2 linked regions of the Homo sapiens genome follow. The protein of the gene in region 1 interacts with the protein of each later gene in a biochemical or structural test. Each region holds a gene or a part of one and is shown on either strand. Other genes may lie near its edges. The genes, in order: NPW and NPBWR1.

Region 1 (11,334 bases):
GAGATCATGCCACTGTACTCCAGCCTGGGTGACAGAGCAAGACTCTGTTTCAAATAAAATAAAATAAAGCCAGCTAATTAGCAACCTTAATTTTATATTCCCTGGTGTGGTGGTGCGCACGTGTAGTCTCAGCTACTCGGGAGGCCGAGGCAGGAGGATTGTGTCAGTCCAGGAGTTCTGAGGATATAGTGGGCTGTGTCAGTCAGGTGTCTGCACTAAGTTTGGCATCGACTTGGTGACCTCCTGGGAGCAGGGGACCACCAGGTTGCCTCAGGAGGGGTGAACTGGGCCAGTTTGGAAAGAGAGCAGGTCAAAACTCCTGTGATCAGTAGTGGGATCACGCCTGTGAATAGCCACTAGACATCAGCCTGGGCAACATAGTGAGACCCTGCCTCTAATCAACCATTTTATCTACAGCCTAATTCCCTCCTACTATGTGGCATAAATATTCACAGGTTGCAGGGATTGGGGGCGAACATCTTTGGGGGGCTACTGTTCTGCGTACACACATGGGTGAAGGCCAGGGATGCTACTAAAGATTCTCAGTGCACAGGATGGCAAAGGTCAGTAGTGCTGCAGCTACGAGTTTTTCTGTTTCTGGCCGGGCGCAGGGGCGCATGCCTGTAATCCCAGCACTATGGGAGGCCGAGGCGGGCGGATCCCCTGAGGTCAGGAGTTCGGGACCGGCCTGGCCAACATGGCGAAACCCTGTCTCTACTAAAAATACAGAAATTAGCTGAGCGTTTTGGCAGGCACCTATAATCCCAGCTACTTGGGAGGCTGAGTCAGGAGAATCTCTTGAGCACAGGAGGCGGAGGTTGCAGTGAGCAGAGATCGCACCATTGCACTCTAGCCTGGGTGACAGAGTGAGACTCTGTCTCAAAAACAAAACAAACAAAACAAAACAAAATAGTAGTTATGCTTATGATTCAAACATTTGGAGATAAATACTAGAAGAAACAGCTAACAGCTAAAAGAGTTGGAAGTAGCTGTCTCTGGAGAGTAGGAGCAGGGTGTGAAGGGTGGGCAGGGATAGCTTTGTTCTCTTCCTTATAGCAAGCAGCCTTTGATTTATAATGTATACTGCCTTGACAACATTAATTATTTTATTTTATTTATTTATTTATTTATTTTTTATTTTTTTGAGACGGAGTCTTGCTCTGTTGCCCAGGCTGGAGTGTAGTGGCACCATCTCGGCCCACTGCAACCTCTGCCTCCCGGGTTCAAGCAATTCTGCCTCAGCCTCCCGAATAGTTGGGATTACAGGCATGCAACACCATGGCTGGCTAATTTTTGTATTCTTAGTAGAGATGGGGTTTCACCATGTTGGCCAGGCTGGTCTCGAATTCTTAACCTTGTGATCCACCTGTCTCAGCCTCCCAAAGTGCTGGGATTATAGGCGTGAGCCACCAGGCGCAGCCCTAATTATTATTATTATTTTTTTTTTTCCTTTTTTTTCTTTTTCTTTTCTTTCTTTCTTTTTTTTCTAATTTTTTTTTTTTTGAGGTGGTCTCTTGCTCTGTCGCCCTGGCTGAAGTGCAGTGACATGATCTTGGCTCACTGCAACCTCCGCCTCCCGGGTTCAAGTGATTCTCCTGCCTCAGCCTCCCAGGTAGCTGGGATTACAGGTGCCTGCCACCACGCCCAGCTAATTTTTGTATTTTTAGTAGAGACAAAGTTTCACTGTGTTGGCCAGGCTGGTCTCAAACTCCTGACCTCATGATCCGCCCGCCTCGGCCTCCCAAAGTGCTGGGATTACAAGCGTGAGCCACCACACCCGGGCAATTTTTTGTATTTTTAGTAGACACGGGGTTTCACCGTGTTAGCCAGGATGGTCTCGATCGCCTGACCTTGTGATCTGCCCACCTCGGCCTCCCAAAGTGCTGGGATTACAGGTGTGAGCCACTGAGCCTAGCCAATTATTTAATATATTTACTGTTTTGGTTTTTTTTTTCATTTTTTGTGAGATGGAGTCTCGCTCTGACGCCCATGCTGGAATGCAGTGGCATAATCTCGGCTCACTGAAACCTCCGCCTTCTAGGTTCAAGCAATTCTTATACCTCAGCCTCCCGAGTAGCTGGGATTACAGGCGTGCACCACAACACCCAGCTAATTTTTTTGTATTTTTAGTAAAGATGGAGTTTCACCGTGTTGGCCAGGCTGGTCTTGAACTCCTGAGCTTAAGTGATCCGCCCACCTCGGCCTCCCAAACTGTTGGGATTATAGGCATGAGCCACTGAGCCCGAGCTATGTATTTACTTTTTGAGACAGGGTCTGTCGCCCAGGCTGGAGTGCAGTGGCAAGATCGCGACTCACTGCAGCCTTGCGAACTCCAGGCCTCAAGGGAACTTTCTACCTCGGACTTCAGGCACACACCACCACACCCAGCTAATATATATATATATTTCGTCATTGTTTGTTTTGGTAGAGATGGGGTTTCGCCATATGGCCCAGGCTGGTCTCTAACTCCGCCTCAGCCTCCCAAAGTGTTGGGATTGCAGGCGTGAGCCACTGTGCCACGCCCTGGCCAATAATTTTAAAGATGACAAAACAGATTTGCTCATTAATCTCCTCCTTACCAGGGCGTTCCTGTTCGGGGCCAGGCTTTGTGCCTGCGGCAGGCGTGGTCCTGGCCTTAAGCAAGTGTCTCACGGGTTTCTAGGCCGGACACTGGTGTCAAGGAACTGAGATGTGAGCCTCAAGAAGCAGGGCTGGCTCTCGTCACCTCCTCCCCAAGGAGAGTTGTGACTCCAGACCCCTGGAGGTGGGGAGAAGGAAGCCTTTGTCACCAGGTCCTGTTCCTGGGCACCAGGCTGGGCAGGACACAGAGGCCTTCCTCCTGCCGCCTGAAAAGGGAGCCCACAGACACCCTTAAGGTTCTGTGTTTTGCTCCTCTAACCCAGTCCTGGTCTCCCCCTGCCACGTGTTCCGGACACTCCACCCAACAGACGCCTCCCCGTGCCTCTGTTCCCAGTGACCTTTCCCTGCGTCCTGCGACTCTCACTCCCTTGGGCCACAGCAATAAACAAGGTAGAGGAGCCACTGCTGGTTTTTTTGTTGTTGTGGTTCTGTTTTGTTTTGTTTTTTTTGAGATAGAGTCTTGCTCTGTCGCCCAGGCTGGAGTGCAGTGGTGTGATTTTGGTTCACTGCAACCTCTGCCTCGCGGGTTCAAGTGATTCTCCTGCCTCAGCCTCCCGAGTAGCTGGGACTACAGGCACCCATCACCACGCCTGGCTAATTTTTGTATTTTTAGTAGAGACGAGGTTTCACTGTGTTGGCCAGGCTGGTCTCAAACTCCTGACCTCATGATCTACCTGCCTTGGCCTCCCAAAGTGCTAGGATTACAAGCATGAGCCACCATGTCCAGCTGTTTTTTTTTTGTTTGTTTGTTTTGTTTTTTTTTTTCTTGAGAGAGAAGGAGTCTTCCTCTGTTGCCCAGGCTGGAGTGCAGTGGCGCAATCTCCACTGCTTCTATTTGCTGTCACAGGGACTTCCATCCCAGCATAGACTTTCATTGATCAGTTTCCACAGTTCCCCCTGCAGAAGCTCCCCGGGCCACCTCCAGGGGGCGTCCTGGACCCTCCCCTGACTGGCTGGAGTCCCCCCAGGGGTCCAGAGACACCCACGTCCTCTTAGCCAGGAGCGGGTGGCAGCGCCAAGGGACCCTGATGGGGCCTGGCTCTGGCCCATGTCGTGCTGCACTACCCGCCCACCACACACTCCAGGCAGCTGTCAAGGACAAGGGGCCCTGGGGGAGCGTGGCGGGGATAGCTTCTTGCAGGGCCTCTGGTCCCCGTGGTCCTCCAGGCGGCGCAGACAGCTCCATCTGCATCCCCCATTCTGCCCCTGTCACAGTGTTTTCCTGACAGGCTGGGGGTGGTCAGCCTCTGGTGCAGCAAGGATAGGTCCTAGCCACAGCGTTCATTGAGTGCTTACTGGGTACCAGGCACGGTTCAGCTCCCAGACCCACCACTGGATTATCAGTGCCAACAAGATGATGAAGTGGCCACTTTTTTTACCCCCAGTTTACAGATGAGGAAACTGAGGCAGGAGAGGCCGAGGTCCTTATCCTCTTCCCCTCAGCTGCGACTATCAAGCAGGGCTGGCGTCTCGCCACTTCAGTGTGGCCTTCCTGGAGAGGGCTGCTGCTTCTAACCCTCGTCAGGCTCACCAGACTCACCGGGGACCCTCACGCCTCAGGAGTGGGAGTCTGGCTCTGCCCCCAGACCTTCTGTTTTGTTTGTTTGTTTGTTTGTTTTTTGAGATGGAGTCTTGCTCTGTCACCCAGGCTGGAGTACAGTGGTCCCATCGTGGCTCACTGCAACCTCTGCCTCCCGAGTTCAAGTGATTCTCCTCCCTCAGCCTCCCGAGCAGCTGGGACTACAGGTGTGTGCCACCATGCCCGGCTAAGTTTTTTTTTTTTTTTTTTTGAGATGGAGTCTCACTCTGTCACCCAGGCTGGAGTGCAATGGCACAGTCTTGGCTCACTGCAACCTCCGCCTCCGAGGACCAAGCAATTCTCCCGCCTCAGCCTCCTGAGTAGCTGGGACTACAGGCGCATGCCACCACACCCGGCTAATTTTTGTATTTTTAGTAGAGATGGGATTTCACTATGTTGGTCAGGTTGGTCTGAAATTCTTGACCTCGTGACATGCCTGCCTCGACCTCCCAAAGTGCTGAGATTACAGGCATGAGCCACTGTGCCTGGCAAGTTTTGTATTTTTAATAGAGATGGGGTTTTGCCATGTTGGCCAGGCTGGTCTTGAACTCCTGGCCTCAAGTAATCCACCTGCCTCAGCCTCCTGAAGTGCTGGGATTACAGGCATGAGCCACTGTGCCCAGCCTGCCCCCAGCCTTTCTGTGCCCTTCTGGACAGGAGTACCCTGTTCCCCCAAGCTGAGGCTCTTGGGCTCAGGTGCTAGGATGTATCTCACCTCCACCATTTACCCAACATGATCTGGGGCAGGTCAGTTCTCCCTGGGCCTCAGTTTACTCGTTGGTGAGTGGAGTCAATAATAGTTCCACTCATGACATTGTCTGGAGGTCAAGATGAGATAGTTCATGATGACCCAAAACGAGATCCCTGGTGTCTGGGACCCAGGGGCTGCCCCATGACTGACATGGTTGCTGAGGGAGGGCTGGATTCACCCTTGCTGGGAGGTCAGGAAAGACTGTGTCAGGCTCTGCCCTCTGGGAGGGGGTTGTTAAGCCCAGATGGCCACAGAGGGAAATTCTGAGGGACTGTCTGGCCCTGCGCCTTTTTTTTTTTTTAAGATGCAGTTTCGGCCGGGCACAGTGGCTCACGCCTATAATCCCAGCACTTTGGGAGGCCGAGGCGGGCGGATCACAAGTCACAAGGTCAGGAGATCAAGACCATCCTGGCTAACGTGGTGAAACCCCGTCTCTACTAAAAATACAAAAAATTAGCCGGGCGTAGTGGCGGGCACCTGTAGTCTCAGCTACTCGGGAGGCTGAGGCAGGAAAATGGCGTGAACCTAGGAGGCGGAGCTTGCAGTGAGCCGAGATCGCGCCACTGCACTCCAGCCTGGGCAACAGAGCCAGAATCCGTCTCAAAAAAAAAAAAAAAGATGCAGTTTCGCTCTTGTTGCCCAGGCTGGAGTGCAATGATGCAATCTTGGCTCGCTGCAACCTCCGCCTCCCGGGTTCAAGCGATTCTCCTGCCTTAGCTTCTCAAGTAGCTGGGATTACAGGTGCCTGCCACCATACCCAGCTAATTTTTTGTGTTTTTCGTAGAGATGGGGTTTCACCACGTTGGCCAGGCTGGTCTTGAATTCATGACCTTAGGTGATCCGCCCGCCTCGGCCTCCCAAAGTGCTGGGATTACAGGTGTGAGCCACCGCGCCCGGCCAAGGATCTGGGCCATTTAAGTGGAGTCTTGAAGGATGAGTAGGTGTTAGGCACAGACGCACAGAGGCAGGCAAAGCCACAGGCTGTTGGTTTAGGCAAAAATTGAGACTGGCTGGATAAAGTGGTCTTGGGGGACCATCACCAGAGAGGAGGCGCTGGAGGTCTGCAAGGCCTTGTCCTGCCCCTCCAGGGGTAGAGGTTCCAGGAGGGGCTGACTTTTTCTCCTGGAAGCCTCACAGAACTGCAGACCCCACGGATGGCTTGGTGTTGCCAACATGAGGCTTCTAAGGCTTCTGCGGGGAGATGGGTTGGTGGGGAGAAGCTGGGGGTGGCAGTGGACAGGACAGGGTGTGGGGACAGCTTTGGGAGCTATGCTAGGCAAGGACAAGGGACAACTCTTGGGGGGACTCACCCAGAGGGGTCTTGAATGGTGCTGAAGGCCCCCGACAGCCCTCCTGCAATAGCCACTGTAGCTCTGCCTGCACCTGGGCCTTCGCTCTGCTGTCGTCCCACCGGCAGGAGTCTGGCTAAAGGGGCATCCCTCAGCCCTACTCCCTCATCAGTGTTCCCAGTACCCACTCCCTGGCACTTCCACTCCTAGAGGGAGGAGGCTGAGCAGGCAGAGAATGGGACGTGTCCCCTCAGAGGAGCCTCGAGCCCAGTTCCAGCCAGCGGCCCACTCAGTGAGGTGCTCAAGTACCCACGTCCCCCGCCAGCTGCCAGGGTTCCCTCTCCTCCCTCCGTCCCTCCCCCCATCTGGGGAGCCCAGCGGTACTGAGGGGGCGGAACGAGGCGGGGCCACCGAGCGGTTATAGCTGGGCCTGCAGGGGACCCACGGCTCGCCTCCAGCCTCCTGCGCTCCGGTACCTGGGCGTCCCAACTCCACTGCGCGCCCAAACCCAGCCGAGCCGGTTCGTGGCCCGCCCCGCCGGGCGGCCGTCGACGCGAGCGCCCTGGCGTGGCGCCCAGGGGAGCGGGGGGCTCCCGCGAGCCGGCCGCGGCTGGCACTGCTGCTGCTTCTGCTCCTGCTGCCGCTGCCCTCCGGCGCGTGGTACAAGCACGTGGCGAGTCCCCGCTACCACACGGTGGGCCGCGCCGCTGGCCTGCTCATGGGGCTGCGTCGCTCACCCTATCTGTGGCGCCGCGCGCTGCGCGCGGCCGCCGGGCCCCTGGCCAGGGACACCCTCTCCCCCGAACCCGCAGCCCGCGAGGCTCCTCTCCTGCTGCCCTCGTGGGTTCAGGAGCTGTGGGAGACGCGACGCAGGAGCTCCCAGGCAGGGATCCCCGTCCGTGCGCCCCGGAGCCCGCGCGCCCCAGAGCCTGCGCTGGAACCGGAGTCCCTGGACTTCAGCGGAGCTGGCCAGGTACGTGAGAGGGGAGAGGCCTGGACCGCCGCGGGCAAGGGGGTCTCGGGAGGTCTGAGCCGGAGCACGGAGCCGCGCGTTCAGGGGGCACCCTCGGGCCCTTCCATTCCCTGCTCCGCGCCCAGAAGAGCTTTCCCTGGGCAGGCTCGACCCTGGCACCCGGGGGCGGTGGTTGGAGGGCCACAGCCTCCTCCCCACGGCCTTGCTGTGTTCTCGTTAGAGACTTCGGAGAGACGTCTCCCGCCCAGCGGTGGACCCCGCAGCAAACCGCCTTGGCCTGCCCTGCCTGGCCCCCGGACCGTTCTGACAGCGTCCCCCGCCCGCCCGTGGCGCCTCCGCGCCTGACCCAGGAGGAGTGGCCGCGCGCTTCCAGGAGCCGCTCATAGACCCCGCCTGCCGTCCGGTCAATAAAATCCGCCTGACTCCTGCGCCCCCGCATGCGACCCCTTCGTCTGCTTGTGTACTTTGCCGTCTAGCTCAGGGCGCAGACAGGCGCGCCCACGCCCTGGCAAATGTCAGGGGCCCCTCCCTCGCCGACCAGGGGAAGCGCCGGGCACTCAGCATTCATTTCAAACCTGGATCTCCCGGCACCCCCTCCCTCCCTTAGCCAAAGGCTTCCGCAGATTGATTAAGAACCCCTGGTCCCCTTCTTCTGGGTCATGCCCCGGGAGGAGGGGCCCCTCCACCTGAGCCCCACCTTGCTTCTTGCTTTTTTTTTTTTTTTTTTTTGAGATGCAGTCTCTCTTTGTTGTCCAGGCTGGAGTGCAATGGCGCGATCTCGGGTTACTGCAACCTCCACTTCCCAGGTTCAAGCGATTCTCCCGCCTCAGCCTCCTGAGTAGCTGGGATTACAGGCACCCACCATGATGCCCAGCTAATTTTTGTATTTTTGTAGAGACAGGGTTTCACCATGTTGGACGTGCTGGTCTTGAACTCCTGACCTCAGGTGATCCGCCCACCTCAGCCTCCCTCCCAAAGTGCTGGGATTACAGGCATGAGCCACTGCCCCTGGCTGCTCCTCTGCCTTTTTTTTTTTTTTTGAGACGGAGTCTGGCTATGTCGCCCAGGCTGGAGTGCAGTGGCGCAATCTCGGCTCACTGAAAGCTCCGCCTCCCGGTTTCACGCCATTCTCCTGCCTCAGCCTCCCGAGTAGCTGGGACTACAGGCGCCCGTCACCTCGCCCAGCTAATTTTTTGTATTTTTAGTTGAGACGGGGTTTCACCATGTTAGCCACGATGGTCTCGATCACCTGACCTCGTGATCCGCCCGCCTCAGCCTCCCAAAGTGCTGGGATTACAGGTGTGAGCCACCGCACCCGGCCTGCTTCTCTGCCTTTTATCCCCCTCTGCATGCACTTCTGGTCACTGGCTCCAGCCCCCCCACATAAATGTGCCCTGCCATCTTGAACACCGAGGACCTCCATCCACCAGGCCCCCTCCAGTTCCCTTCCCAAGGGTCTGGGCCCCTCCTCCCTCCCGCTGCCTCTTCAACCCTCTCTAATCTTCCCTGGGACTCCAATGACTGTCCTGGACCCCAAACCACCAAGGTCACATGCCCTGATGCAGCCCACCCTTGGAGCCCTCCTGTGGCCATGTGGCAGGGTCCCCCCTTGGGGCCACCCAGCAAGCATTGGGGGAGAGGTGGTCCTGGGCCTGGCTCCAGGATGCCTCTGTGGAACCAGCTCCCCACCCCCACTTCTAGAAGCCCCCCTCCCCTCACTGGTAGGTCCTTTCCATCTCCAAGGTGTGTCTGTCTCCCAAATGTGGGTGCTTTTTATCTCCACCCCTTCAATTCTTTTTCTTTTCTTTTTTTTTTTTTTTTTTTTGAGACGGAGTCTCCAGCCCATGCTGAAGAGGCACTATCTCGGCTCACTGCAACCTCCGCCTCTCTGCCTCCCCGGCTCAGATGATTCTCCCACCTCAGCCTCCCCAGTAGCTGGGATTACAGGTGCCCACTACCACGCCCAGCTAATTTTTGTTTTTTTTTTTTTTGAGACAGAGTCTTGCACTGTTGCCCAGGCTGGAGTGCAGTGGCATGATCTCCGCTCACTGCAAGCTCCGCCTCCCGGGTTCACACCATTCTCCTGCCTCAGCCTCCCGAGTAGCTGGGACTACAGGCGCCCACCACCACGCCCAGCTAATTTTTGTATTTTTAGTAGAGACGGGGTTTCACCATGTTGGCCAAGATGGTCTCGATCTCCTGACCTCGTGATCCGCCCGCCTTGGCCTCCCAAAGTACTGGGATTACAGGCGTGAGCCACCGCGCCCGGCCAACAGCCAATTCTTATGGAGCCCTTGGTTCCATCTAGCCCTCCCTCCGGCTCTGTGCTGGGTGAAGAGGTGGTCACACACCTCACAGGGCAACTCATTCTCCTGCGAGCTCATTCCTTCCCACTCCTGCCCCTGTTCCTCACTGAACCTGACCTCTAAGAACATGGATGTCCTGACCTCGTCACCACCACACCACGCCTCAAGGGCTCCCCACTGCCTATGGGACGATACCCGTGCTCTGGCAGGGCTGGCTCTGTCTGCTCTCACCGCCCCTCCCACTGCCTCCTCCCCCTTCCCCACCGCCTGCTCCAGACTGCAGATTCCAGGACAGCCCGGGACCTCCCCCGCCGAAGGAGGACTCCAGGGCCCCAGGCTGGGTTAAATGTTCTTCCTGGGGCTGCTTCAGCTCTGGCCTCCCCTTGCGCAGGCCAAGGTGCTCAAAGCTCTGTTCTCGCGGGGCTGGCGGGGGGGCGTTCAGTGATGTTCCCTGGTGCTTGCCTGGTCCAAGATGGGGAGACAGAGCCCATGAGAGGCTTCTCTGCCTCCCCCACTCCACACCCTTATTCCCCTGCAGCGCAACCAGGCCTAGGGCGCCAGCCTCACCCCAGTCCCCACCCCACAGGACTGGATCGAGTGGAAGGAAGCCAGATGGGCAGGATCCTGGGGCAACTCCTCGCACGATGCAATGCCACCAGTTCCGGCCAGGTGGCGCTGCGCGGCTACTGTTCCGGGCGGTAGCGTCCGACTCGCGCCTCCAGCAACGGGCGGGGCTAGAGCCGCAGTGGGCGGGGCCACGACGGGTGGGCGGGGTCGCCCCGTCGGCGGCAGCGGTTTCCTGCCTCTCCCCACTCTTGGGTCGTCGCAGTCCCCCGGCCTTCTCTCTCTGTCTGGTCTGTGGGTCTCTGTTGGTCACCTCCTTCTGTCGCGCTGGCTCCGCCTGCTCCAGTTTCAGAATGTAAAGAGAGGCATGGTGCAGCCTGAGGGAAGAGGCCCTAGGCGCGGTCTGGTTATGCTTGAAGGGCCATTAATGTCCATTAGGAAGCCCCGCCTGCCTGAGCAGCTCTGGACCATTACCGGGAGTCGGAATAGTGGCCCCACCCCCAGACAGGGCCCCAGGCCACGGCCACACCCCGGAGCCCCGGTCCAGGTCCAGGCTCGGGCTCCCTGAGATCGCTGGGACCTTGCTGGAGGGATGCGGGTTCAAGGCCCGAAGGAAAGGTCCTGCCAAAACAGGAGTGCACGGGCGGCCCCCACCCCGGTGGACCCCCCACCGACAGCCCAGGGGAACGGCTGAGACCTGCTCTCCCTCTGCTGGATAGGACCCACGCCTGGGTAGCATGCTGGCAGGCGTGGGTTAAGGGGGTTGGGTGGAGAGTTGGGGGATCTCCCAAGCCTCTGATTGCCTCTGCCTTGACTTTCTTCCCTCCTGCTGGGGCCCGGGGAGCCCACGTCACCCACACCCCATCTGCACCCCACAGAACCAGGAAAATAAAGTCCACCCTCCTCTCGATGCTGACCCTACTCCCTCCCGCCCACCTCCCTAGCCCTTTCTTCGAGACACCAAGCACTTTGCGGCCCCTGAACACCTTTGCCCAGGTGCTTCCCTTCGCCTTTCTCTGCCTCCAGCGCAGCACCCATACGGGCCAAGGTCAGCCTCGGACCAGGGCTGAGAGCTTCCGGAGGCTGGCTGGAGAAGAGGCCTGGGAGGGTTTGCCCCCGAGAGCTTCTAGGTCACCCTTCCTCGCCTGTTCCTCCAGGCCCCTGGACTCACTGTCCCCTCTCACTGACTCTGCACCTCCTCTGAAATCGTGACCTCTGGTTCCTCTCTGGCT
Region 2 (11,944 bases), on another chromosome or scaffold:
AGCAGGTATATATCCTTGTTTTAGTCTGTTCAAGCTGTTAAATGAAATACTATACACTGGGTGGCTTCCAAACAACAGAAATTTATTTCTCACAGTTGTGGAGGTTGGGAAGTCCAAGAACAAGGTTCTGGCAAATTTGAAGTCTGATGACCATCTTTTTTGCTGTAACTCACAAAGCAGTAGAGATGAGGGATCTGTTTGGGGCCTCTTTTATATCGGCAAGAATCCCATTCATTAGGGCTCTGCCCTCATGACCTAATAATCACCTCCCAAGGCTTCACCTCCAAATACCATCACATTGAAGATTAGGTTTCAGTATGTGAATTTTGGGGAGACACAAACATTCAAACTTTTGGCTCCCCCCAGATTCATGTCCTTCTCATATCTGACATACATTCATTCCATCTCAATAGTCCCCAAAATCTTAATTTGTTCCAGCATCAACTCAAAAGTTTAAAGTTCAAAGTCTCATTTAAAAATCAGATATGAGGGAGACTCACAGTACAATTCATTCTGAGGCAAACTGCTGTTCAGATGGGAACCTGTGAGATTGAACATGTTGTGTGCTTCCAAAATACAAGAGTGGGACCAGGCATAGGATAGACATTCCCATTCCAAAGGGAGAAATAGGAAAGAAGAAATTCATAACAAATGCTTCCCAAGTCCAAAATCCAACAGAGCAAACATTAAATCTTTTTTTGGGGGGTGGGGAGTGGGTACAGAGTTTCTCTCTTGTTGCCCAAGCTGGAGTGCAATGGTGTGATCTCCGCTCACTGCAACCTCTGCCTCCCAGGTTCAAGTGATTCTCCTGCCTCAGCCTCCCCAGTAGCTAGGATCACAGGTGTGTGCCACCACACCCAGCTAATTTTTGTATTTTTTTTAGTAGAGACAAGGTTTCACCTGTTGGCCAGGCTGGTCTCCAACTCCTGACCTCAGTGATCCACCCACCTCAGCCTCCCAAAGTACTGGGATTGCAGGCATGAGCCACGGCGCTCGGCCAACATTAAATCTTAAGTCTTAAAAATAATCCTCTTTGGTTCCATGTCTCACTTCCAGACATACTGATGTGGTGAACCTGTCTCCACAGCTTTGGGTGGCCCTGCTCCCAGGGCAGCTTGATACCTGGCTTGCATCCTGGCTTCCTGGGGCTAGAGTCACACACTGGCTGCTTTACTGCTCTGGGTCAAGGGAGCTGACCTACCCCAGCTCTGCTGAGCGTTGGGCTTCACAGGGACTCTCTGTGGTGCCTCACACCCTCGGAGGCTTTTGCACTCTGCGCCTTTATAAGGGCACTAATTCCCTTCATGAAGGCTCTGTTCTCAGAACCTAGTCACCTCCCAAAGGCCCATATCCAAATACTATCAATTGAAGATTAGCTTTCAATATGTAATTTTTTGGGGAGACAAAAACATTCAGACCATAACAACCCTAATACTATCTATAACTACATTTAATATACTATGAACTCAATACTTCAAAGACATTGTCAGATTGGATTAAAACAAATGTTCTAATGCTTACATGGGACCCACATTAAATACAAAGACATAGAAAGATTTAAAGTAAAAAGATTTTTTAAAAAAAGCTGTTCCATGATAATATTAATGGAAAAACAGTTAATGTAGCTGTAATGATATCAAACAAAAGTGGCCACATACAGCAAGTAGGAAATGGCTGGGCGCGGTGGCTCATGCCGGTAATCCCAGCACTTTGGGAGGCCGAGGAGGGCGGATCACGAGGTCAGGAGATCGAGACCATCCTGGCTAACATGGTGAAACCCCATCTCTAATAAAAAATAGAAAAAATTAGCCAGGCGTGGTGGCAGGCGCCTGTAGTCCCAGCTACTCAGGAGGCTGAGGTAGGAGAATGGCGTGAACCCGGGAGGTGGGGCTTGCAGTGAGCCAAGATCGTTCCATTGCACTCCAGCTTGGGCGACAGAGCGAGACTCTGTCTCAAAAAAAAAAAAAACAAAAAAAGAGAAAAAAGAAATAGAAACCTAGTTAAAGATGTTATAATGATAAAAGGTAATATATACAGATAATATTATAATTATATGTGATATATTCTATATTATAATGTTAAATGTATGATCATTTGATAAAATCAAATAACATGATGATAAAATCATTATAATTAGGCTATCAAGATGAAAGGGTAAATTCCACAGGAAAATATAGCGATCTTAAACTCGTGTACCCTTAATAAAACAGCATCAAATTATGTAGTGAAAATTGGCCAGTCATGGTGGCTTGTGCCTGTAATCCCAGCACTTTGGGAGGCCAAGGCAGGCGGATCGCTTGAGGTCAGAAGTTCGAGACCAGTCTGGCCAACATGGTGAAACTCCATCTCCACAAAAAATACAAAAAAAAAGAAAATTAGCTGGGCGTGGTGGTGTGCCCCTGTAGTCCCAGCTACTCGGGAGGCTGAGGCAGGAGAATCACTTGAACCTGGGAGGCACAGGCTCCCACCACCACACTTCAGCCTGGGCAACAGAGTGAGTGAGACTCTATCTCAAAAAAAAAAAAAAGTAAAATTACGTAGTACAAGTTGACAGCATATAATGAAAGCGTAAGTAGAGAAATTCACACTCATTAATTGAAATTCCCCCCCCCCGTCCTTTCAGTAACTAATGAGACAGTTAGATAAAAATATCAGCAGAAGCCAGGCACGGTGGCTCACACATGTAATCCCAGCACTTTAGGAGGCTGAGGTTGGTGGTTCGCTTGAGCTCAGGAACTCAAGACCAGCCTGGGCAACATGGTGAGATCCTGCCTCTACGAAAAATACAAAAAATTAGCCTGGTGTGGTGATGCGCACCTGTAATCCCAGCTACTAGGGGTGCTGAGAGGGGATGATTACTTGTGCCCAGGAGGTTGAGGCTGCAGTGAGCTGCAATTGCACCACTGTACTTCAGCCTGGGTGACAAAGCAAGACCCAGTCTCAAAAAAAAAGAAAAAAAATCAATAGAGAAATTTGAACAACATAGTAAGTTTGACTAGTTGACATATGTAGAGTTTTGCACCCAACAAGTGCAAAACAATTTTTCAAGTACACATGAAATAATTAGAAAATAACTATATACTGGGGAGTAAGTTTCAAAAAATATCTATGAATTGAAGTCATATTGAGTATGTTCTCAGTTTACAGTGTAATTCAACTGGAAGTCAACAATAAAAAGGCTAGAAAATCTCCAAACGGTTGAAGATGATCAACTATATACATACATGTGTATATATACACATAAACATATATGGACACACGTGTATACATACGTGTATATACACGTATATACACATGTGCATATGTGTATACAAACATTCACACGTGTATACACACGTGTATAAACTATATACATGTGCATATATACACACATACACACATGTGTGTATATATGTGTGTATATACACACGTGTGTATGTGTATATACACGTGTGCATATGTGTGTGTATATACACACAAGTGTGCATATATGTGTGTATATACACTGTGTATGTGTGTGTATATACACGTGCATATGTGTCTGTATATACACGTGTGTATATGTGCGTGTATATATGCGTGTGTATATATGTGTGTGTATATACACGTGTGTGTATATATGTGTATGTATACACGTATGTGTATATAGTTGATCATCTTCAACCGTTTGGAGATTTTCTATTATATATATTTTTTCTTTAACATTATATGGTGTTTTATCATATAGTGTTTCTTACGGACATAGCTTAAGAATCATCTGTTATTTTGTTTCACAGAAAGTGTGAAACTGCAGGGGAGCCGATTTGTATAGATCCTGGTAAAAAGATAATTGAGTAGGTAAATTCCAGGGAGCTTTTGGACAGTGGATCCCCCTGTCAGTGGTTTTGGAGTCCCTAGTTTCAGTTACTCGTGGTCAACTGTGGTCTAAAAATATTAAACAGAAAATTCCAGGAATAAACAGTTCCTAGGTTTTCAATTGTGTTGACTTCTGATTGGCGTGATGAGATCCAGCCATCTTACTCCTTCCCACAGAAAGTGAGTCCTCCCTTTGCCCAGCGTTTCCCTGCTGTCTACAATATCCACCTGTTAGTCACTTCACAATCTGGGTTATTAGATGACTGTGGCAATGACCAGTGTGGTGTCTTCAAGTTGCCTTGATTTTACTGACTTTTTGCCCTTATTTCTCTCTGGCTCCAAAGTGCAAGAGAAGTGATGCTGGCAATTCAGATATGCCAAAGAGAAGCTGCAAATGCCTCCTTTAAGTTAAAAGGTAAAAATTCTGGACTTAATAAGGAAAGAAAAAAAATCATATGCAGAGGTTGCCAAGATCTACTAAAAACAAATCTATCCACGAAAATGTGAAGAAGAAAAAAGAAATGCATGCTAGTTTTGCTGTTGCATCATTTTTGGATGGAAGAACAGAAACATGTTCCCATTGACCGCAATGGGTACTATCCATGGTTTCAGGCATCCACTGGGGCTCTTGGAACCTATCCCCCATAGGTATGGGGGGGCTACTGTATTTCTGGCCCCACAGTCTTCTACTGCCGACTTTAGGTCTCTCTGGATCTCAGGCCCCCTTCTCTAAGATGCATCCTAGAGGACCAAAAATACACTTTATTTGGGCTTCGCCTGCTTTTGTGGAAGGGTAGTTTACTAGAGGATATAATCTCGTGTTTTAATTTGCTCTCTCTCCTAAAGGAAATGTGGAGAAAAAAAAAAAGCAGAAATTGGAAATAACCAATATTTAGTTTATTTCATTCGATTCTTAGGGGAACTGGTGAGGAGCCTAAGATGATTTTCCCTTCCTAGAGAAAGAATCCAAAGTCCAGGGAAATAGCGACAGGGGAGTTCAAGACTGCCCCTGCTAGTCCTTCCTTGGCTACTCTCCGCTGCGATCGCAGGATAGCTCTCATTAGCAGGAGAATCGGGCAAGTGTGTGGATAAGTAGAGAGTGTGTTGAACAACTTGTAACGTTTTATGAAATACGCATTGTCATGGTTCCCTAAAAGGCTTTGCGGAAGCCGTTTGTCTTTACTAATCAAGTCTTTACTTACACAAAAGTAGAAGTAGAAGTAGTTTTAGAAAACATACTAACAATCTTCTATCCCCTTGAAGACCAGAGTAGCAGAAAACAGGTGATTTGCATTATAAAATTGCACTCACTTTTTCCTCCTTTCAGATTTCACATTACATTAGCCTATTTGTGTTACGGTGTATAAAAAATGGAACAGGCGCCTCCACTACATTGTTCTCCTTTAAAAATAGATCACTTACACCCTAACTTTGTTTTCCTTAAATTCGATTCTTAACAGGAGAGCTTTCTATTATTTCAGATGGAGTGAGGTTGCACGACTGGGATGGAAGAAAGGAATCCCTTAAATTTGGGGGAATTTCTGTTCTCTGTTCTAAGACCATTTTACTTGGGGTGTGGGGGTGGGCGCGGCGGTCAGGGCAGTGGAACGCAGTCGCGGCTGCGCCATCCCTGCACTTCCAGGCGCGCGGGAGGGACCGGCGGGGACGCGAGCTGCGGACTCTGGCGAACTCGGGGGAGGCAGACAGGGGGAGGCGGACACCCAGCCGGCAGGCGTCTCAGCCTCCCCGCAGCCGGCGGGCTTTTCTCCTGACAGCTCCAGGAAAGGCAGACCCCTTCCCCAGCCAGCCAGGTAAGGTAAAGACTGCTGTTGAGCTTGCTGTTACTGAGGGCGCACAGACCCTGGGGAGACCGAAGCTTGCCACTGCGGGATTCTGTGGGGTAACCTGGGTCTACGGAAGTTTCCTGAAAGAGGGGAGAAGGGTTTGCATTTTTCCTATGGAGGATTCTTCTCTCTCTAGCATTTCGTTTGATGTATTCAACTGGTAGAAGTGAGATTTCAACAGGTAGCAGAGAGCGCTCACGTGGAGGAGGTTTGGGGCGCCGCGGCGCCACCCCCACCCCTCCTCGGGACCGCGCCTATTTCTAAAGTTACACGTCGACGAACTAACCTATGCTTTAAATTCCTCTTTCCAGCCCCGTGAGTCCGCGGCGACATTGGGCCGTGGGGTGGCTGGGAACGGTCCCCTCCTCCGGAAAAACCAGAGAACGGCTTGGAGAGCTGAAACGAGCGTCCGCGAGCAGGTCCGTGCAGAACCGGGCTTCAGGACCGCTGAGCTCCGTAGGGCGTCCTTGGGGGACGCCAGGTCGCCGGCTCCTCTGCCCTCGTTGAGATGGACAACGCCTCGTTCTCGGAGCCCTGGCCCGCCAACGCATCGGGCCCGGACCCGGCGCTGAGCTGCTCCAACGCGTCGACTCTGGCGCCGCTGCCGGCGCCGCTGGCGGTGGCTGTACCAGTTGTCTACGCGGTGATCTGCGCCGTGGGTCTGGCGGGCAACTCCGCCGTGCTGTACGTGTTGCTGCGGGCGCCCCGCATGAAGACCGTCACCAACCTGTTCATCCTCAACCTGGCCATCGCCGACGAGCTCTTCACGCTGGTGCTGCCCATCAACATCGCCGACTTCCTGCTGCGGCAGTGGCCCTTCGGGGAGCTCATGTGCAAGCTCATCGTGGCTATCGACCAGTACAACACCTTCTCCAGCCTCTACTTCCTCACCGTCATGAGCGCCGACCGCTACCTGGTGGTGTTGGCCACTGCGGAGTCGCGCCGGGTGGCCGGCCGCACCTACAGCGCCGCGCGCGCGGTGAGCCTGGCCGTGTGGGGGATCGTCACACTCGTCGTGCTGCCCTTCGCAGTCTTCGCCCGGCTAGACGACGAGCAGGGCCGGCGCCAGTGCGTGCTAGTCTTTCCGCAGCCCGAGGCCTTCTGGTGGCGCGCGAGCCGCCTCTACACGCTCGTGCTGGGCTTCGCCATCCCCGTGTCCACCATCTGTGTCCTCTATACCACCCTGCTGTGCCGGCTGCATGCCATGCGGCTGGACAGCCACGCCAAGGCCCTGGAGCGCGCCAAGAAGCGGGTGACCTTCCTGGTGGTGGCAATCCTGGCGGTGTGCCTCCTCTGCTGGACGCCCTACCACCTGAGCACCGTGGTGGCGCTCACCACCGACCTCCCGCAGACGCCGCTGGTCATCGCTATCTCCTACTTCATCACCAGCCTGAGCTACGCCAACAGCTGCCTCAACCCCTTCCTCTACGCCTTCCTGGACGCCAGCTTCCGCAGGAACCTCCGCCAGCTGATAACTTGCCGCGCGGCAGCCTGACTCCCCCAGCGTCCGGCTCCGCAACTGCCCGCCACTCCTGGCCAGCGAGGGAGGAGCCGGCGCCAGAGTGCGGGACCAGACAGGCCGCCTAGGCCTCCTGGGGAAACCGACTCGCGCCCCATACCCGACCTAGCAGATCGGAAGCGCTGCGACTGTGCCCGCAGGTTGACCTTGCCAAGCCCTCCAGGTGATGCGCGGCCATGCCGGGTGAGGAGAACTGAGGCTGAGATCGCCACACTGAGGGCTCCCTAAAGCCGAGGTGGAGGAAGAGGAGGGTAGAGGAGGAGGGCGGTATTGCTGGGAACCGCCCCCTCCCTGCCCTGCTCCCTGCTGCCCCACCCGAGCCCTGGCAGTCTGGAACCTGGCTGGAGTCGGAACTCTCCGCGCCTTCGAAGGGAGGCCCGAGGACGCTGCCGGCGCCCCCAGGCGTCGGCTCCGCGCGGCCCCTGCTGTAGCTGGCGCACAGCCCCGGCGGGTCCCCTTGTCCTCCGCGCGCTCTGGGAAGACGGTCAGGCGCGCGCGTTTGGCGCCCACCCCTGTGAGACCCGCTTGGCCTGGCGCCGCGGGCGGGGACCGCTGCCGAGGCCGCCAGCGCCTCTTCAACTGGGGAAAACACAACAACTCGGGATGCCCCATCGGAGTGTGTATACACCTGTGTGTGTGTGTGTGTGGTGTGCGCGCGTTTGCGGAGGCATGAAATGCGGGGAAAGAGGCTGGCGCTTGGCAGTGACTGCCTAGAATATGATACGAATAGTGATCCTTCTTTCTGTCTGCCCCTACTCCTTTTCTTTGCCTTTTCCCTTTCCTATCCGTGATCTCCCCTGAAAATGTCAGACTCCCGGAGCAAGGAACCCGGAGTAGCCCGGGCGCGCGGTTCCGGCGCCCCCTGGAGGAGCCAGCGGCCGAGTGCTTAGCGTCGGAGGATCGCGGGGCTTTGTGGTGGAGCACTCCGGCTGAGCGCGCTTCACAGCGCTGTGGCACACTGGTCATCGTTGCTTATAGAGGATGCCAAGCCCCACCCCCATTCCCCCAATTGGCCTCGTCTCTTGTCTTACTTAGATCAGTTTGTTGTAACTGTTCATGTGTGTACTGTTTTTCAGGACTGAAAACTTTATAAATAATGTACATGTCCTAATCTCACGAGTTGCCATGAAGATCAAATAAGATAAAAAGAAATGCGATCTATTCTCTTGTGTTCCCTTTCTCCTCTGCTTCCTTGGCTCCGCCTTAGGGAGAGCAGGAAGCAGGGATGACCGACGGCTTCAGGTTTTCTCTGCTGTACTTTTCACAGGGAGCTGTGGATTACCTGGGCTTTATTCCTTACTTGTAGACGGCATCCGGTAGGTAGTCCCGGTAAACCGGGTAAATACTGGTCCTGGAGTCACCAGGGAGATTGGCCAGCATCCTACCTGTGTTTTTGTCTCTGCATATGGAAGACAAAGTGGATTAAGAGAGAGGACTGGCATTGGGTTTGCCCAATCCTCTGCAGTTTAGCCTTAGACATGAGGGCCGAACCCTAAGCAAAGTCTGGTAATTGATTATGGTGTTTTAAAAGGTATTAATCTTTAGGATGAAGTCCAAACAGGATGAAAATTTCTACAAATGTTTGTTTCCTATGTCATGTGTGAGAAAAAAAAATGTGAGTGTTGCAGCACATTTTGTTTGCTTAGTTTGGCATCTTCAATCAATTTCTCAATTATTTAGGTTGAAAATAGCTTTTAATAAATATTTGGAAGGAAAAAACTCCCCCTTGGAATGGGGGGAAGCAAACCCCCTCTCTAATTTTGGTGAATAAGAATTGCTTTCTTAGCTCTCAGAGTTTTTAGGAACATTGAAATAATTCATAGCCATCAGTTTAGAAAATATACATTAAAAAACCTTCTGTCTTGGGTGGCAAATAATAGTAAATTGTTTAAAAGAAAGTTTTCATCTACAATGAGTTTCGAGTGGTGGACCTCATGGCATTTGAACAGGCCTCTCTCTGCTGGCCGGCTTCGGAGGCTTCTTGGAATTCATTTTAATATCTTTCGAATTTCTAGGAAACATTCTATTGATTTTCCTTAAACTCTCAAAATTATCTCATGAATCCTCTGTAACTTTTCAAAATTAAAGTTTTAAACTTAGAGTAACTTCTAGATTACCTAAGGTGATGGACAAAGAGTAAGGTGAACATTTGGCTACAAACACAGCTGGAGTGATTGTCTGGATTCAGTATCTCATCTGTCTTAATAAGCTCAGTAACTGGACTCAGATGGGGGACAGCTGAGTGATCCATCTGTCCACTGTTTCATCCCTACAGTAGATTGACCTCGAGCCTTCTTGGAATCTATGGAGATGACTGCTGGAAAAATACACGGGCTGACATTGCTGTTCATCCCCAGCAAGGCATGGACTGGCTTCTGAGTATGCCTGTGGGATTAATCAGGTCTCAGCAGTTGAGTTCCTCCTGGGCTTTCTGATCACTGGATAAACTGTTGTATCATTATTTCTAGGTCGTTGCCCTTCATACGAGCATGTAGACTGTATATCTCAGGCTTCCTTTTTATGTCTTGGGTAATCGGTTGAATAAATACACACATAAGCCAGGCAAAAGTAGAATTTATTCACATCATTGTATTGCAAAGGTTTTAACACTGTGTTGAATTCTTGCAGTTTCTGTGTAAACTCTATGGTTTGGTTTTACCACTTTGAATAGTTAAAAATGTCTATTTGCTTTTACTTAATTTAGTGCAGTTATGTAATGTGTATGCTTATGTTTTCTCTTGACAAACGCAGAAACTCTGTAGTCCATTGTAGAGGAGCTCAGTTTAAAATAAAAGCTGAAACATTCTGTGTGATAAGTGAACATTCTATTTTCTGAGAACAAGTTATCCACAATTAAGTCACCTTAGCATTTGTGCAGTGTTACTATTTAAAAATACTGCCTTCATTGGAAAAGTGATCCAATGAATACTCAATGAATAAATAGAAGTATTTGACAGGACAAAATTAAGAATGAACACCCCCACCCCTTAATTTGGTTGATTGTGAAAATGATGCAAAGCTGCTGATAAACACAGAGATTCCAGAACTTATGCTGGGCAGAGAAAGGATGCTAAACTTCTATCATACCATCAAAAGCCTCATTTCTTAAATATTTGAGCAGCTATGTGGAGGGGGAGAAGGGAAGAGAAATTGCTTCAATTATTAGTATACACATTGCTATCAGCAATATGCATAGACATAGCACAAATATGCAAGGTGGAGAATCTCACCTGAAAAACTCACGAACTTATTATAAACCCTTCTTTCCTCAGCAACATGCTGGGAAAACAACAGCAAGACAAAAAAACAGTAAACTCTCCTTGGATATTAATCATCTATGCTTATGCACATTAAGAAAGAGATCAGAGAATTCTGCCCATAATGGTCTTTTATTAGCACAGCTTTGGGTCTGGCACTTCGGCCCCCATTTTACATACAAAGAAAGTGAGATACAAGGAAGTGGATCAATTTAGCCAGGCCCACAAAGATCAGTGAAGACCAATCAGAGCCACCCAGTTCCCATTCTATTCTAGGAATTGTGTCATCTTGTTTCAGCAGAGATGGAATTCGTTGCAATGTGTAATTTGGAAATATTAGACTAGAAAACAATGATGTCTTTTAAATATTTAGTAGATTAAGCAAGCTGTATCTACCATTAGCTCATACGAGATAAAGGGAGGGTAAGATTTAATATTATAAAACTTCAATCTTAATTCAGAGACTTACAAAGTGTATGGGATTGTTGAAAGTTATATGAGAATAAAAATTCCTAACAGAGCTGTCACACAAAGGCACCATGTGCATAGCAGCCTCCACGCTTTATGTACGTGGAACTGTGCCCCAGAGGGACTATTCATATAGGAGACAATGCTAATGATGGCTGTACTCTGTAGAATGGAGCTTTGCAATGGATGATGCTGTCCTTGAATTTAGGGCAAGGGAAATGTATTTGTTTATACCATATCTCATAAGGTTACATTGGTGACATCATGTTAAATAAAAATAAAAGATGGAAAAAGGGAAGGAAATTTAAAATGATATTGCTCAGAAACTGTCAGAATGCATGAACTGCATGCTTCCCACAGTCCAGAAGATTTCTCTTGGGCCTGGGGGGCAATAGTGCACACAGACCTGATGCTCTGTTGGGCCAAGACCCAGGGAGCGGCTCACCATCTTCCTGTAAAATCTGGATCTTCTCATATTGTTCGACCAGAAGGTTAACTCACCCCCATTCTGAGGTAACCCAAGGGCCAGAGTCACAACTGCAATAACCAGGCCACCGTTTACCACGGAAAGAGTGGGTGTTTGCATAGTCAAAAATGTGGGAGAAATTGCCAGAGTTCCCAAAGGTGAGGGGCAAATCATTTGTGAATGCTAAATAGTAACAACAAAACGGACATCTTAAATGATTCATCCATTTGCCAAAGAAGCTTCTTCCTTTAGGCAGTGATGAATGATCTGGTAGAGGAAGAAAGACCAGCCCTATACAGTAACTGTGGTGTGAATGCAGCAATCAAACCTGAAAAGATGTAAATATTTACACCTGCAAAAGTACCAAGTGAATTATCCACATTTTCCTACATAATACTATTTTGATTCCTTTAACTCCTCTCTTCCAATAAAAATACCACTCTTCATTGCTACATTCTATTTATTCTCTTTACAGAGGAGTTCCAGGGGTCTTAGTTAAAAGGGAGTTACATAATTCCTTAAAAAAACTGCATCTTGGATTTATCATGACAATTTA

Evidence for each region.
Region 2: the proteins of NPW (region 1) and NPBWR1 form a complex in vitro, tested with the Homo sapiens proteins (one study listed by BioGRID).

Annotation. Positions count from the first base shown.
Region 1 is NC_000016.10:2,013,081-2,024,414, forward strand, and holds NPW (neuropeptide W preproprotein), read left to right. Parts: upstream 1-6,704; 5' UTR 6,705-6,821; coding exon 6,822-7,232; intron 7,233-7,452; coding exon 7,453-7,539; 3' UTR 7,540-7,675; downstream 7,676-11,334. UniProt on the Homo sapiens protein: Plays a regulatory role in the organization of neuroendocrine signals accessing the anterior pituitary gland. Stimulates water drinking and food intake. May play a role in the hypothalamic response to stress.
Region 2 is NC_000008.11:52,933,722-52,945,665, forward strand, and holds NPBWR1 (neuropeptides B/W receptor type 1), read left to right. Parts: upstream 1-5,460; 5' UTR 5,461-5,645; intron 5,646-5,989; 5' UTR 5,990-6,186; coding exon 6,187-7,173; 3' UTR 7,174-10,013; downstream 10,014-11,944. UniProt on the Homo sapiens protein: Interacts specifically with a number of opioid ligands. Receptor for neuropeptides B and W, which may be involved in neuroendocrine system regulation, food intake and the organization of other signals. Has a higher affinity for neuropeptide B.